Homo sapiens: one gene and its partner. The protein of the gene in region 1 purifies or fractionates together with the protein of each later gene. This does not show direct contact. Each region holds a gene or a part of one and is shown on either strand. Other genes may lie near its edges. The genes, in order: UGT1A9 and WDR20.

Region 1 (3,825 bases):
TATATTAATGTATGTATTTATGACTATACGTGTAAAGCCAGCGGAGTTCTCACAGAGGAATTCAGAACTCAAAGAAGGCTTTCCGGCAAAGAGCCTTGGATATGGCCCAACCACAGAAGTAAATTGTCATTGACAGAAGGATGGACACTTCATATTGCTCCTTCCTTGTTTCAGATGCCAGGATGTGTCTGGGAAAAGCATGCAGTTGGTTACATCTTGCTGGGAAACAGGATTCAGAGTCTGTGTCTTATCTGTCTGATGAGAAGGAAGCATTACTTGATGATGGAGTATGTGTTTGCACATGTATGTGTTTGTGTATGTGCAGGTGTGTTTGTGTGCAGTGTCCCAGACCCTGCATAGGGGATTTTCTTGAAGGTCTCCTGTAACAAAATCTCCTTGAGGCTATCCAGGGGAATTACATCCAGGGATGTAATTAAATACTTTAACAAGGATGGCAGATGGCCCCGTCTTCAATGTCAGGGATCAAATTTCAACGTGAGATTTGGAGGGGACAAACTTCTAAACTATATCATTCCGTGTGGTCATTCTTTTACATTCCAGCGTTCTAATGTGTGTGTGTTGATTAATGATGTGTAAATAATTCAGCAGAACATTGAAATAGTTTTAATGGCAAAAAGAGGAGGTCCCTAGTCTTTTTGAATTTTTGATGAGTTCCAACAGAATTAATGACTGGTTTTAGGTGAAAAGAATTCAGGCTTTGTCTATACCATCCATGGCAGGTGCGGCTCTGGGGGTGGGATATGGTTACAGATAAATAAGAGATCTGTGCTTCCCCCCTTGCTGTAAGATTCTGGCTATAGTCCAAGATCCAAATTCAAAGTTAGCTTTTGGTGGACAAGACTAAGGCCTCCCACTAAAATTATTTACTTCAAGTTTTTATTTTCAAAGTTTTCAAACATACACAATGGAGAGACTCAGTGTAATGAGCACCCACTTATCCATTCTTAGGTTAAATAATTTTCACTATTTTGCTCTACTAATTCATCTATCCCTTTATTCTATCTTTTTAAAGAAAACTTTTAAAAATAAATTTGTATGTTTTTAAAAAGAAATTCTTGGCATGTCATTCCATCACTGAACAATTCATTTAATATAAAAAATAAGAAAAATTTGTTACATAGCCACAATATCATTATCATATCTAAGACAATAAAAATTCTTTAATATTATCTCATTTACAGTCCATAATAAAATTTCCCCGGATTGTCTCACACAACATCTTTCCATACAGATCAATGGAATAGAATGGAGAATTCAGAAATAAACCCATACATATACATCCTTGGCCAATTGACTAGGTGCCAAAGTTTGACAAGTGTGTCAAGATCATTCAAATGGGAAAGAATAGTCTTTTCAACAGAAGACCCACCCTGGGGTCCTTGAGCTCCAGCGTCAGACTCCAAAACCATTTGTGGAAATCATCCAGCCACCTCCCACCATGCCTCTGATGAATCCTTCACCGATGGATTCATCAGAAGCATGGTTGATGATGAATTCACTGATGAATCACCCCTGTGTGCATCCACAGGGGTCCTGCAAATATTTTCTCACAGTCTGTTGAGTGACTTTTCTTACAAATACTTCATTGTAGAATAAATATAGGATTATAGCAAGGTTACAACAAATAGTTTAGAGAATTTTCATCTACCCTGTGTCCAGTTTCCACCATTGTTAAATCTCATGTTTCTATGGCACATCCATCACAACTCATTCACCAATATTGACGCATAATGATGAGCTAAAAGCTAAAGTCTGTTTCCTTCAGATTTCATTAATTTTTACTTAATTTCCCTGTTCTTTTATGGGATCCCAGTGATACCACCTGAAATGTAGTCATCATGTCTCCTTTGTCTCCTCCAGCCTGTGACGGTTTCTCAGACTCTCCTTGTTTTTAGTGACTTGGGCAGTTTCGAGCAGTCCTAGTCAGGTGTCCTGTAGAATGTTCCTCTAGAATGTCAGTGTGTGTTTTGCCTGATGTTTTCATCGTGGTAAAACTGGGTTTATAGACTTTTGGTAGGAAGACACAGAGGTCTTTTCTTGTTTTCTTGCGTGTGAATATTCAACTGTAGAAAAACAGAACCTTTTCTCCACTGCATTGCCTTTGTACCTTTGTAAAAACTTGGTTGTTCATACATCTGTGCACGTATTTCTAGACTTTGTATTCTGTTCTGTTGATCTATTTGTGAAATATTTGATTACTATAGCTGTGTAATAATCTATAAATGAGGTAGTGTTACCTCTAATTTTTTTTTTCAAATTGCTTTTGCTATTGGAGGTCTTTTGCATTACCATATGCATTTTAAAATAAGTTCATTAATGTGTGCAAAAATCCTGCTAGGATTTTGATTGGGATTGTATTTTATTTATAGATCAACTGGGGAGAAACAACATCTTAGCAATTTTGAGTTTTCCAATTCATTAACATATCTTTTTATTTAGGTCCGTCATCAGTGCTCTGTAGTTTTCAATGTACAGTCTTTCACATCCTTTGTCAGATATATCCCTAAGTATATCATGTTTTTGATGCTATTTAAGTGGTATTTTTAATCCAGTTTTCAAGTGTTCATTGCTAGTATAGTTGACCCCTGAACAATGTGGGAATGAAGGGGACCAACCCGTGTGTAGTAGAAAATCCGCATAGAACTTTTGATTCTCCAAAAACTTAACTACTAATAGCCAACTGTTTACCAAAAGCCTTGCCAATACCATAAACAGTCAATTAACACATAGTTTGTATGTTATTAGTATTATATCCTGTATTATGACAATGCAGCTAGCTAGAGAAAAGAAAATGTTATTAAAAAACGTAACATATGAAAAAATGCTCAACATCACTAGTTACCAGAAAAATGAAGATGAAAACCACAATAAGATATCATCTCACACCAGTTAGAATGGCTGTTATTAAAAAGTCAAGAAATAATAGATGCTGGTGAGGCTGCTGAGAAAAGGGAACACTTGTACCCTCTTGGTGGGAATGCAAATTAGTTCATCCCCTGTGGGAAGTAGTTTGGAGATTTTGCAAAGAACTTAAAACAGAACTGTCATTCGACCCAGCAATCCCATTACTAGATATATGTAAAAAAAATCGTTTTACCAAGAAACACATGCACTGGTATGTTCATTGCAGCTCTATTCAGAATAGAAAAGACATGAAATCAACCTAGGTGCCCGTCAACAGTGGCTTAGATGAAGAAAATGTGGAACACATACTCCATGGAATATGCAGCCATAAAAAAAGAATGAAATCATGTCCTTTGTAACAACATGGATGCAGCTGGAGGTCATTACCCTAAGGGAATATATACAGGCACAGAACACCAAATACCATTGTTTTCACTTAGAAATGGGAGCTAAATAGTGGGTACTTTTGGGCATAAAGATGGCAACAATAGACACTATGGACTCCTAAAAGGGAGAGGAAAGGCTGCAAGAGTTGAAAAACTATTGGGTACTATGCTCAGTACTTGGGTGATGGGAGCAATCATGCCCCAAACATCAGCATCACACAATATACTCAGGTAACCTGCACATGTACTCCTGAATCTAAAATAAAAGTTGAGTATGTATAAGAGGAAGTCATTCATCATAAAGGTCTCCATCCTCATCATCTTCCATTGAGTGGGCTGTGGAGGAGGAGGAGTAGATGTTGATTTTGCTGTCTCAGGGTGGCAGAGGCAGAAGAGGTAGAGGAGGTGGAAGTGGAGGCAGGAGAGGCAGGTGCACTTGGTGTAACCTTATGGAAATACATCATAATTACTGTCTGTTTTTTTCTCTTTGATGTATTTAAAAATGCTTTTATAC
Region 2 (3,825 bases), on another chromosome or scaffold:
GTAAAATTTTACAATAATTATTTGGATTATTCAGAAGATCTAATTTAGATGAGTAAATTCAACTTAAGTCTGTGTGTAAAATGAGTAGAAAATAGGTCTTTTAAAGAACTTAACTCATTAATTACGTGCTACCATTCCTGAGAGGAAACATGGGGTCCTGGGGAAATGGAGTAGGTGAGGAAGTAGTCTAACGTTCATGCTGAGGAGTGCAATCTTGATCCTTTTAAAAGGTTTACAGGTCAGTGTCTGGAGCTAGAAGGAACTTTAGAGTTTGTTATTTCACCCTCCTCAGAGCGAACCAAGGCCAGAGAGGGGATGCAAACCTGTTAGAATTTTTTCTCATAGTAAGGAAAATGAAGCACAGCTGAGTCTAAACCAGCTTAGAAGAGACTGATCCACCTTTTTGATCACAGGGATATTATATACTCCGAGCACTTCAGAATCTACCCCGGCATTTTGCCATATATTATTTTATTAAATTCTTGAGGTAGATTAAAACATCTTTTCACAATCGAGGAAGTTTAGAGTGGGGTTTCTTGTGTGAGGAGATGTAGTTTTGCAAATTTATTTAAAGACAGTATTAACATTGATTTAATACTGACACTAATCATTTTACCAGATTTGAGTGACTACTGTGATAGTAATAATACCAGGCAAGGTGATGTGAGGTATTCAGAGCTAAATAAGACCCTGTCCCTCTCCCCAAAAGACTTTCAACTACTAGCTTTTAAACATCTTTTTTTTTTTTTTGAGACAAAGTCTAGCTCTGTCACCCAGGGTGGAGTGCAGTGGCACAATCTCGGCTCACTGCAACCTCTGCCTCCTAGGTTCAAGCGATTCTCCTCCCTCAGCCTCCCGAGCAGCTGGGACTACAGGTGCGTACCACCACGCCCAGCTAATTTTTGTATTTTTGGTAGAGATGGGGTTTCATCATATTGGCCAGGCTGGTCTCGAACTCCTGACCTCGTGATCCACCCTCCTCGGCCTTCCAAAGTGCTGGGATTACAGGCGTGAGCCACTGCGCCCGGCCGTAAACATCTTTATTACATACTTTGTTCTCCTTTTTTAAAAAAAGAGATTGTGGTCGGGTGCAGTGGCTCATACCTGTAATCCCAGCACTTTGGGAGACTGAGGTGGGAGGATCGCTTGAGCCCAGGAGTTTGAGACCAGCCTGGATAATATATCAATACCCTGTGTCCACAAAAAAATAATAAAAAAAAAATTAGCTGGCCATGGTGGTATGTGCCTGTAGTCACAGCTACTTGGGAAGCGAGGAGGGCTCTTGAGCCGAAGAGTTAAGGTTACAGTGAGCTATGATTGTGCCACTGTACCCCAACCTGGGCAACAGAATGAGACCCTTTCTTTAAAACAACAAAAAAGGGGAGTGGGGCTATGCGCCATGGCTCACACCTGTAATCTCAGCGCTTTGGGAGGCCGAGGCAGGTAGATGACCTGAGGTCAGGAGTTTGAGACCAGCCTGGCCAACATGGTAAAACCCCATCTCTACTAAAAATACAAAATTAGCTGGGCGTGGTGGTGCTTGCCTATAGTCCCAGCTACTCGGGAGGCCGAGGCAGGAGAATCACTTGAACCCTGGAGTCGGAGGTTGCAGTGAGCCAAGATCATACCACCGCACTCCAGCCTGGGCGACAGAGCTAGACTCTGTCTCAAAAAAAAAAAAAAAAGATTGTTTTAGGATGTAGGATAAAAGATGCCAAAGGTAAGGTAGCTGGGCTTATTGGACCAATCCTCTCATTTTATGGACATCTGTTTTTACATAAATATGAATGGCCTCCATTCAGATCTCAGCTTAACCATCACTTCCTCAGGAAATTTTTCTTTGAATCCCCATGGTGTATCAGTTTTACCCTATTACATGTTTTTTTGTTTTGTTTTTTTTTTTGTTTTTGAGACAGAATCTTGCTCTGTTGCCCAGGCTGGAGTGCAGTGATGTGATCTTGGCTCACTGCAACCTCTGCCGCCCGGGCCCAAGTGATTCTTGGGCTACTCCCGAGTAGCTGGGATTACAGGCATGTGCCACCATGCCCAGCTCATTTTTGTATTTTAATAGAGACGGGGTTTTGCCATGTTGGCCAGGCTGGTCTTGAACTCCTGGCCTCAAGTGATTCACCTGCCTCAGCCTCCCAAAGCACTGGGATTACAGGCTCTATGTTCTTAGAGCATCTTGTGCTTTGCCTTCCTAGCACTTTTCTGAATTTGTAATTCTGTGTGATGATCCAACTGTGCCTTCTATAAAACAAAGCTCCCTTAGAATAGGGACATTATCTTTCCTGCTCTCCATCTTCTCAATGCACAGTGCAGTGTCCAGTTTAGAGTTAGGCCCTTGCTGTGTACTTGTTGAGTGAATGACTGAGTAAAGCCATGTCTGTCTATACCAAACTTGAAAGAGATCTTTAGAAGATGAAAAACCTATTCAGTTTTGGGCCCAAAAGTAACTTGGGTATTTTTTAATAGCTCATATCTTTTAAAAGACATTTAAAAATATTGCTAGTAGGTAAAAAATTTAACCTTCTTAAAATAGGGAAATCGTGTAAGAGACAATGAAGTAATAGTAAACAAATGACACAGATTACTTTTGATCTACTTCTGTCAAACCATGTCACCTACAAGATCCATGTACAACTTTTAAAAACTGTTCTCAGGCCAGGAGTGGTGGCTCATACCTATAATCCTAACACTTTTGGGAGGCCAAGGCGGGAGGATTGCAGGGGTCCAGCCTGGGCAACACAGTGAAACCTCGTGTGGGTTCGAGACCAGCCTGGACAACATAGTGAAACCCTGTCTCTACAAGGGTGGGCGTGGTGTCATGTGCCTCTAGTCCCACCTACTTGGAAGGCTGAGGTAGAAGGGTCACTTGAACTGGGGAGGTTGAGGCTGCAGTGAGCTGTAATCGTGCCACTGCACTCCAGCCCGGGCAAGAGAGTGAGAGCCTGTTTCAAAAAAACAAAACAATCAATAATAAACAAAAACTATACTCAGAATTACTTAACATTCAAGCCAAAGAACCTTCCTACCTTCCCACATCTTAAGATTCCAGGTCACAAATGTACTGCCCAGAGAAGTTACTGAAGTGGTAACTACAGGAGGTAGGAAGTAGATTTAGAGGATTCTAAGGTTTTTCCATCTCTAAAGCTTATATGATTCTGTACTCAGTTGTTTTTTTTTTTTTTAAATGGAAATGGATTCATCATTCTATTGGGGAGGTATCTTCATCTCTTTGATTCATTGCCTACTTGATTTGGAATTGAGAGGGGTGGGGTGTTTGGGAAAGCAAGCTGAAAACATTGTGATTTCTAGGTATTTATGCTGGAAGAGTTTTTTTGTTTGTTTGTTTGTTTGTTTGTTTTTGAGACGAAGTCTTGCTCTGTCGCCCAGGCTGGAGTGCAGTGGCTTGATCTTGGCTCACTGTGACCTCTGGCACCCGGGTTTTAAGCGATTCTCCTGCCTCAGCCTCCGAAGTAGCTGGGATTACAGGCACTTGCCACCATGCCCAGCTAATTTTTGTATATTTAGTAGAGACAGGGTTTCAGCATCTTGGCCAGGCTGGTCTTGAACTCCTGACCTTGTGATCCACCCGTCTCGGCCTCTCAAAGTGCTGGGATTACAGGTGTGAATCACCATGCCCGGCTAGAAGAGCTTTATGTTCATGATGCTGAGATGAAGTTGGGGCCAGAAGAAGAGTCAGTTGATAAAAGCTAAAGTATTTTTAGATCCTGATTAAAGAAGAAGGTAATGGGTTGACTTGAGAGAGAATGAGCGTTCTGTTATGGGAATGCTCATATGGGAAATGTTCTGTCTCTTTGT

What was found.
Region 2: the proteins of UGT1A9 (region 1) and WDR20 purify together in Homo sapiens (affinity purification with mass spectrometry; one large-scale study listed by BioGRID and IntAct). This does not show direct contact.

Annotation. Positions count from the first base shown.
Region 1 is NC_000002.12:233,674,734-233,678,558, forward strand, and holds part of UGT1A9 (UDP-glucuronosyltransferase 1A9 precursor), read left to right. Parts: intron 1-3,825.
Region 2 is NC_000014.9:102,142,813-102,146,637, forward strand, and holds part of WDR20 (WD repeat-containing protein 20), read left to right. Parts: intron 1-3,825. UniProt on the Homo sapiens protein: Regulator of deubiquitinating complexes. Activates deubiquitinating activity of complexes containing USP12. Anchors at the base of the ubiquitin-contacting loop of USP12 and remotely modulates the catalytic center of the enzyme.